Regions from separate parts of the Homo sapiens genome. Here region 1 is linked to region 2. The links come from fine-mapping of genetic effects on gene expression. A gene starts in region 2. The other region holds a variant in brackets. All regions are shown on one strand. Distances are from middle to middle.

What was found.
Region 1: its variant is fine-mapped to the expression of ARPC5 in whole blood (TOPMed, PIP above 0.99).

The regions. Positions count from the first base shown.
Region 1 is chr1:183,687,592-183,691,990 of GRCh38, forward strand. It overlaps a transcript of RGL1 not described here. Among named protein-coding and RNA genes, the nearest start is that of APOBEC4, 36 kb to the left of the region's middle. The variant T/G (reference allele first, on the strand shown) is at 2,572.
Region 2 is chr1:183,633,757-183,638,155 of GRCh38, forward strand. ARPC5 (actin related protein 2/3 complex subunit 5) reads right to left here and starts at 2,027. Exons shown (of 4, transcript NM_005717.4): 1 at 1,761-2,027. The coding sequence starts at 1,903. It also overlaps a transcript of RGL1 not described here. RefSeq lists enhancers at 1,223-1,723, 1,721-2,000 and silencers at 1,311-1,529, 1,481-1,540, 1,621-1,670, 2,151-2,310.

The DNA of each region.
Region 1 (4,399 bases), 54 kb after region 2:
CCATCACAGTGCTTTCTCAGAGAAGCAAGGCTCAACAAATGACTGGGAAGAAACTTTTGCTGGTTGAGAGAGGTATTCAGTATGTGCTTCAACAATGATGTAAAAGGGAACAAAGAGAAGTGAATGCAAAACATCTTTATTTGCTTTGGACTGCCCTTCTTCCACTAAGGCTAACTTTGAATAAAGAGGAACTCGATACCGGGCCAATGAATAAATTTTTAAAACTGGAAACTTAAAATGAAGGTTTGAGGATCCTGAAATACTATATATTTTAAAAAATCAATGATTCTTTTAAGAAATGGAAAACAAAGTGAGGGAAGAGTGGGTAGAGAGATTGATTGGTCATTCTATATCTAGTGTAATGGAAAAGGTATTTTGTGTCAGCAAGATCTGGGTTTTGATTCTAGTCTTGCCACTAGCTGGCCACATGACCTTGGATGTCTTGCTTCTGAAATCTAGGCTTGTTATTTCTGTTGGTGGTTTAGGATGATCACATGAGATGAATCTTGGGAAATAATTCTTACAATTATAAAGCACAATACAAGTGTAATATATTATCCTGATTATCATTATCTCACCATTCTAGTATGAGGATCCAGGGCTTCATTCTCTTGATGTTTTCAACTTTGTGGTCCCAGAACTCCAATGGCTACAAAGATGCCAAGATCTGAACTCAGAGATTCATGAAACAGCTCTAAATAGTTTTAAATTACTTCCTTGGGAAATTTTTGCTTGCTTATGTGTATCTGAGATTAACAACAGTAAAAACACCTTTTATATAGCACCATCAGTGAGGCTTTATGTCTTTATTATAAATTTTGGAGCATCCTCCAGGCTCTCAAAATGAAATCTCTGGATCTACTGAAGAGAGAGAGAGAGAGAGAGACAGCAAGGACTTTCATGTCTTTAAAAGCAATTACAGGCTCAGGTCTCTGAAAAAGTATTAAGTGCCAAGACTGACGCCTCTGCAACCATTTATTCTTGACATTTTTTCAACTTTTTTTTAAGCCAGACTATTGATGCATTTTAATACCATTAGTATTTGTTAAAATTAGTTCAGCAGTATTATTAATTTGTCTTCTTAAAATAAAAGGCAGGAAAACAGTATTATGCATGTATTTAAATAAGTCCCCTTTCCAGATATTGGAAGGTATGTTTTTAAGTATTCTGGAGAAAAGTCATTTTAAAAAAATTTCCAAGCAGACCATTTTGCTTTAGAAATATTGAAGATGCAATATGTGAATCATATTTGGATTTTAAAGCAGGATATTAAACTTCACAGTAAAAATGATTCCATAGTTGTTAAAGTCCAAAGAGAGGTTTACGAAGCCAGCAGACAGAGAAACTGAAATTCACTTGGAGAGGTAAATGACACAGGAATGGAAACATTGAATAAATAACTTTACAGCAATTTTTCTTGATGTTATTTTATCCCTTAAAGGCAGACAGATCATTAAAATTAAAATTGTATTAAAAATATTCTCTATAAAAATATATAACCCAATAAAATGAATGTTGAGTCAGCCACGTGTATTTCTTTCCAAACCCATAATTTGGATTTGGATTGGATTTCCAAACCCACAATACTAAATTTATTTAGTATTTTGAAATTCATATTTGCTAGGCAGTGCATCTTAGTAAATTAAAAAATATATATTCCCATTACTTAGTTCATGTAAATAATCCTAAAGGTGAACTGAATTGGCCTTACTGAAATGGAGGCTCATGCCAGGGCTGACCAGGGAAGGTGAAGAGAGGATAAGAGACATTTTATCTTCATGCATTTGTGTCTTTGCATTTGCTGTTTCTCTCCTGGATGTGTTTCCCATCCTGGGTCATTTGCTTAAATTCATACCAATTTTTTTTAGCATCTATTTCAAGCACCCTGTTCTCCACTATGACTTCACTAACATTTCTAGATAGATAGTTGCTCCTTTCTATTGCTGCCTTGTATGTAACTCTGTTATTGCATGTAACACATCATCAATAATTTGCTTACATTTCTGTAGCTTTTGTATTTCCAGTACCTACCTTAGTGCTTGACATATAGTAAGAACTTAATAAATGTCTGCTGAGTGAATAAATAAAAAAGTGAGTGATAGCTCCTGATCACTGCATAACATAGATACAACTCATAAAGTTGTGATTCCTGGCCTCATCCTTGTGGGGCAAGTAGGGGTGGTGGGACAGAGGCTACCCAGAAGATGAACAGAGGGATGGGTTGATTATGCAATAAAAAACATTCATTCAGCTTCTGGCACTGTGCCAGGTGCTGTGGGGGAAACTGCAGAGATGTGAGGTACATTGTATCTGCTTTCAGGGGTTTACCAGTTAGGTTTAAGGGCCTAATTTACCTGTATGAATCATCTAGAGGGAAATTGAAGGCTAAGTTGTAAGACTTGACTGTGTGTCTATGAGGAAGTTAGAAAAGTTAGAAACCCACATGAGTTGAAGGAGCTTGGAAAGGCTTCATGAGGAGCCACAAGTTAATTTGGGCTCAGCAGTATTGACTGAAGGAAGGGCTGATGAAGTGGCAAGCCTTGGGCTAGGTGGGAGTTGAATGGGTGGCTG[T/G]GTGGGAATTGGCTTGTGGAGCAGTGTTTACTCTGGGAGACCACAGACACTTTCTACACCTATGGATGGATTTTAGAGATGCTTTGAACCCCTGGAATTATTTGCAAAATGTTGTATGTATGTTTATATGAGCAGTTTTCCAGGGAGAATTCTCAGCTTTGAAAGAAGTAGATGCAGATTTTAAAAGAATGTTACGTTTTGTAGTTGTAATCACGAATAGGTAGCATTATCATTATTTATCTTTTCATGAAGTCTTAAAGAAAGGGAAAAAGGAAGAATTCGATGGGGTAGGGAGGTGAAGGGAGGAGGGAGATTCAGGCTAACAATATAGGTATCAATATTTATTAAATGATCTTTCCCTGAAAGTGTATCACTAACATGCTGTATCTTTAGCTGATTGTCAAAAGAGATCATCTAAGCGATGGAGGCTACACTGCCTGTTTGAGAGAAACTACTGAACTAAAAGTGAATGAAAATGTATCCCATTGTTGCCCAAATGAAAATATACTTAATTCAAAGGCAGAAATAATTTTTAAAAATTGTTAGTGCTAGAAAGATGAGGTACTTATAAAAAAAAAAAAGAATGTATTTCAACCAGATCATGTAAAAGTATGCCCATTCTCCCACTGATTTTTCTTCTACTTGTTAATAGTTTTGCTTTTTATACTTAGCACGTTAGCATATTTGAAGTTTATGACATCAAGTAGTGACTCAAGTTATTTTAATGGAAAGCAAGTCATGTTAAGATCACTTCTTGAACAACTTATGCTTTTGTCATTGACATGATATGCCTAATTGAGGTTTATGTTGTATATATCCTGATTGGGGTTCACTGAGATTTTTGGATTTGTAGATTAAAGTATAAATTAAATTTTGGAACTTTAAAAAATAAAAATAAAAAATAAAAATAAAAATTGTTAGTGCTTTAACCAGCAAACATTATTTTTTAAGGATTATTCTATTTAGGTTTTTGAATGTAGGGATTTGCCTCATAATGAAAAATCTGCATTTCATCATAAAAACTGAATAAAATGAACATGACTTGGTTATTTGCCATAGATGCGGATTCTTTTAATATTGGATGCTCAGTTTGTATAGAAAACATTTGGATTGGAGCCCCTCTTTGGGCCATTGCCAACTAGAGGTTAACATACTAATATATCAGAGATAGGAGTGATGGATTTCTACTTCTGGGTGAGTGTTACGCTATCACATGCCCTGAAGTGATAGCTCTATCATGTTGCAATTGTGAGTTAAGGAGGAAGGAAAGAGATCTATGAAAAAATAAGCTGTTCCTTTGTTTCCTGGCTTGTTCCAAAAAGGATTGCAATAAAAAAGAGTTTCATATTATTGGTTTATGTAATTGATAAGAGCCCAGTAATTGAGGAACAAAAAAGTTGTTAAGTTTATGCAAACGAATAATACAAAAGGGATTTTCCCATAATTCTATCTTTAGGAGAGTAATTAATTGGATAATAGTTAAAGAAGATAGTAATGTTGAGAGAATGAATAGGTATATAAACCTCAATTATATCTTAAACATTAGTAAGCCATATTTTTACATAGAATTCAGTTTAATTGGAGGACCTGAGAAATTTGTTGACACTGGAAACTTGTGCATTTTTGATTTATAAACCTGAAATATGCATAACTAATGTTAATTTAATAATGTTGAATTTTAATAGCCTTAAAGTCAAGCATTAAGAAAAATGCTCAGATCATACAATTTTATGAAAAATAGACTATTCAACTCTTAATGATTCAACATAAAGGGCCACTTCAGTGAATGTTCAAAATGTATTATCACTTCTGTGGTGATCTAATCTTA
Region 2 (4,399 bases):
CATATTTCACAAAGGTTATTCAAACTGTGTTAGACCATACCTATTAAATTCAGGCTCTCTTTGAAAGCACTAGTGAGTTAGCAAGCATGAGAAACAGAAGGCCAATCAGACTGTCAGAATGTACAAACATTCCCCTAAAAGGAAAACCACAGAGTTCACTTGTTCCTCCAACTCTAGTACCCCACCACTAGGGCTGTCTTTCCTGGCTGTATGTAACGGTAAGAAGAGACAGTATCTTTATATTTTAAGATGAACTGATCAAAAAGCAGATCCACTGATATGGATACAGCAGTACCATTTAAAAGTCACCACAAATTACCTAAAATACACTGGGGTTTCATAAAACACCATCTATCCATCACAAATAATGTTTTTAGGAAGCATGTTCACCATTTATTTTCTAAAGAAAAAGTTCTTACACAAAATCTCTGGTTGACAAGCTGTTATTTTCAAGGCTGCAGGGATTTCTAGAGAAGCATGCCTGATGTAGATTAGCTCATTTTTTATAACTCCAAGCACTTAAGTATTTAAATAATGCAAAAGAGCAACAGCTAATTAATTGTGAAAGTTGTGGCAAAGCACTATCTATATATTGATAAATGTCTAATGCTCTATTTAGGTGCCTTTAAAAAAGGATATTGTTGCCATTAAATATTTTCACTCTCATATTTCCCCACTATAACAGGACATTGTTGAGAGTCTTCCTTATGAATACACCCAAGAATTAGAAATGCATACAAATTCAGTGTCTGAGATTTTCTAAAACTACAGCTTCGGTTTTTTTGCAACATTTACATTTTTCTAAAAAAGATGTAATGCAAATGCGAAGCCAAAGTTATGAATATTCAAATATGCAAAAACAGAAACCGGGAACTGACTGCCATATTTTAACTAAAATGGAAACAATTTTAGGATTACAAAAATGATTCTGCTTTATACGAATGACTCATCTTCTATCTTATTCATTGGGGTTTATTTTAAATATTTCCAAGGATTCTCCACACGCATTCCCCGTTGTTTTTTCTATTGTCCTTTTCTTAGCAGGTAAAAGGCTCCAAGCTTCCTTCTAGGAGTTTTGTATTTTTTGTATTCATTCCCCTCCCCCAGTTAACAAATTCTGTACAATGTATATTTTGCCAAATCCCCTTCTTCTTCTTCTTTTTTTTTTTTTTTTAAAAAGGCCAATGGGCTGAAAGCACAGGGACCCTCAATTTTCGAACAGTCCCATCTCCCCCCGCCCCCCGGTAAGGAATAAACTACCTTAACGCTACCAATAACAAAAACACAACAAAAAACAAAACCACTAAGGAAAGATGCAGGTTCCCCACAATCAGAAATTTCTGGAGCTAATGTGACCCCAGGAAATCAGAGTTCTAGGAAGAAAAACTAAGGCGCTCGGCACCAGCCTTCCCCACCAGCCGGGGCCGCCTTCCCCAGCGCCGCGAGGGCGCGGCCGGCGGGACCAGTTCCCGAGGCAGGCAGGCACTCGGGTGCAACCTGAGGAATCTGGGGGCGTGGAAGGCGCGCGGGGGAGGGCAGGCTTCCAAGAGTGGGACCCTCGCGTCTCCTGCCGACTGGGTAGGAAACGGGGGCTTCCCCCTTGCCCTCTCAGAGCGGGCGATCCCAAAGAGACAGGTTAAGCCGCAGGTTGAGAGGGCAGCTCCGCGCCGGTGCCCCGCGGATCCTGCAGGCTCCCGGGTCCCAGGAGAAGGGCGGGCTGGGCTGGGCTGGGGTGGGGAGGGCGGTGAATGCAAGGATATTGCCGCAGGCAGGAGTCCACCTCGCCCTCGTCGGGCCCGGCCTGGCCGTCGCCCCCATCTTCTTCGTCCACGAACTTGTTCTCGTCATATTCATCCACGTCCACCTTCCGGAAGCGGGCCGACGACACTGTGTTCTTCGACATCCCAATCCCGACCAGCGGCAAAGGCCTCTTCTTGGCGCTGCCTCTACCTCAGCAAGCCCAGCCCAGCAACCCACTACCCGGCGCCTGATTCACTTCCCTCTTCCGCTCTGAGGCGTCGCCGACTGCCGCGGCTCGGACCGTTCTGGGCCTGCGCGCTAGCCCCGTTTCTTCCTCCTCAGGTTCGCGCTCCCTTGGCGCCTCCCACGCTGCCCCTGCTCTTCCACGGAGAGCGCGCGCGAGGGAAGGAGCGCGCAGGACACAGCGCGCAGGCGCGGGCTCTCCGCAGGCAAGGGGCGGGGCTGGGCGAAGGAGGCGGGGGCGAGAGGGAGGGCCAAAAGCTGGACCGCGGGCAGAGGTAAGAAGCGATTGGTCGTCCGATTGCGTCACGTGATTCTCGGTGGGGGGGTTCCCATAGAAACGCTTTTCTGCGGTCCAGTCTAGGGGGTCTCAGATTGGCGGGGATGGGCAGCAGCGGCAGGTGGCCTTGGCTTTTGCTGCAGCCGTCAACGACCTATCATCGGGGTCCTGCGTAAGGTCCGGCTGGCTGGGACTTGGCTGTGGGTGGGATGGACTGGCTGCCGGACCGAGTGCCCTGCAGTTGGTAGGAGTATGAGGCAGAGTGATGCACACCCGGGCGCCCAGCATCGTTCTAATTGCCGGAGACATTGCCTCAGACTGTGCGCTGCTAGAGGCTGCGTTCCTGAGCAGGAAGCCCGTTTCCTGGGATTGGAACTACCCTTCTTGGCCAGCGGGAAGTCCCCAAGGACGGAGTCGAAAGGTCAAATCTTATCTGTCAGTGCTGTGTGACAGCATCGCAACGGGATCTGCAGAACCTGAACTCGGTATCAAATCTATTGGGAGGGAGGGGAACGTGTCCGGGCAGGCGCTGGGGTCGGGTGGCAAAACTGGGGTGAATTTGTAGAATTTGGGAAAGGGTCATTGACATCTTAAAATAGGTGGTCGTTTGGAGCAAGAATGCTCGAAAGGGGTGAGGGTAGGTTAGGCTCTCTAGTGCTGGGGGAAAACAAAATGTGGAAGGATTGGTGGAAACCAGACCTTTAAGATTTATATTATGATTTGAGATTTATATGATTCCATCTAGGCCAGATTTAAAAAAATATTTGACATCCCCATTTCTGGAATGTAGGAGATAAAGGCACTAAGACGAAGGAAATGGTAGTTGTGCTGTGTGTATTACACTGAAGAACAAATATTTGCAGGATAAAATTAATTTGGACATTTGGCTGGACACTGCTCGGTATGGGTCCAGTTTAGTTGGACCTCGAGCAGAAGACTGGCTGTTGCCCTGTTGTGTACCACAATCTTTGGTTTCCAGTGCTGTGTTGAAAAGAGCACTAGGCTTAGAATCAGAAAACTCAGGCTTAAGTGTTGACTCTTCCACTCATAATGTTTGAACGAGACATGTCACTTAAAATTCTGTCTCAGATTCCTCATCACTGAAATGGAGCTAATAATGTGCACTTTACAAGATTGTTCTTAGGATTATATATCACGAAAGTGTTTCCAAGCTCTAAAATTCTACATAAATGTAAAATGCATGTTGCTTGTACCATTGGTTTTGGGACTAGTCTTATAAATTTCTTAATGATATATGGTGTTTTATCTCCTTCCTAGAAGAGATGGAAAGATTCTGAAGGGCAGAAACAGTTTTTCTTTTGTATCTTCCTTCCATATGACAAAAAGCTAAGCATGCAGAAGGGACTCGATACATGCTTGATGAATGAATGAAATGTGAAAGACCGTACAGTTTGAGAATCATACTGAGAATAATAAATCAGAAGAGGGAGAGAGATCTCAAAATTAAATATTTGTTGGATATATACATGTAAATACATATGTCCAGTCTTCTTTAAGTTCAAAAAAATACATATATAATGTGTGTATATTTATCTATGCAGTATATTATATATAAATAGAGAGTGGGAGAGAGACCTCGAGAATGGAATACATCCCTTTTTCTTGGGAAGAAGCAATGTGGTGTTTTTCTGTTCCCAATTAAACCACTCTTCTATAAGTATATCATTTAGGTGATAGAAGTAACATTGTTTAAATTAACATTCAAGTTATGAACACACACTGGTAAAAATTCTCTTAGGAATGCCTTAAGACAGCAAAGGAAAAATTTTTACCTGTTGGCAATATTTATTTTAAAAAGCCATATACCAAAGTATAAAATCATTACTATGGTGAATGGCGTTATATAACTTAGAATAAAGATTTTACAATTTTTTTTCAGTTTCAGTCTTTGCTAACTTTAGTAGATGCTAATCAGTATACTTTAGCTGTTAAAGGTGATTGTACTTTTTCTTCTTTTAAATCAAGATTTTTCTTTGAAGAGAAAATCGAACATTAGAGGCACTATTGACAGCAAATGGAAACAGGGATTCAAGAGCTAATATATCTCTTCTCTTACATTTCTATTCTTTTGTATTGCCTTATTTAGGAAATTTTTTATTTTCTTATTTGAGAACTATG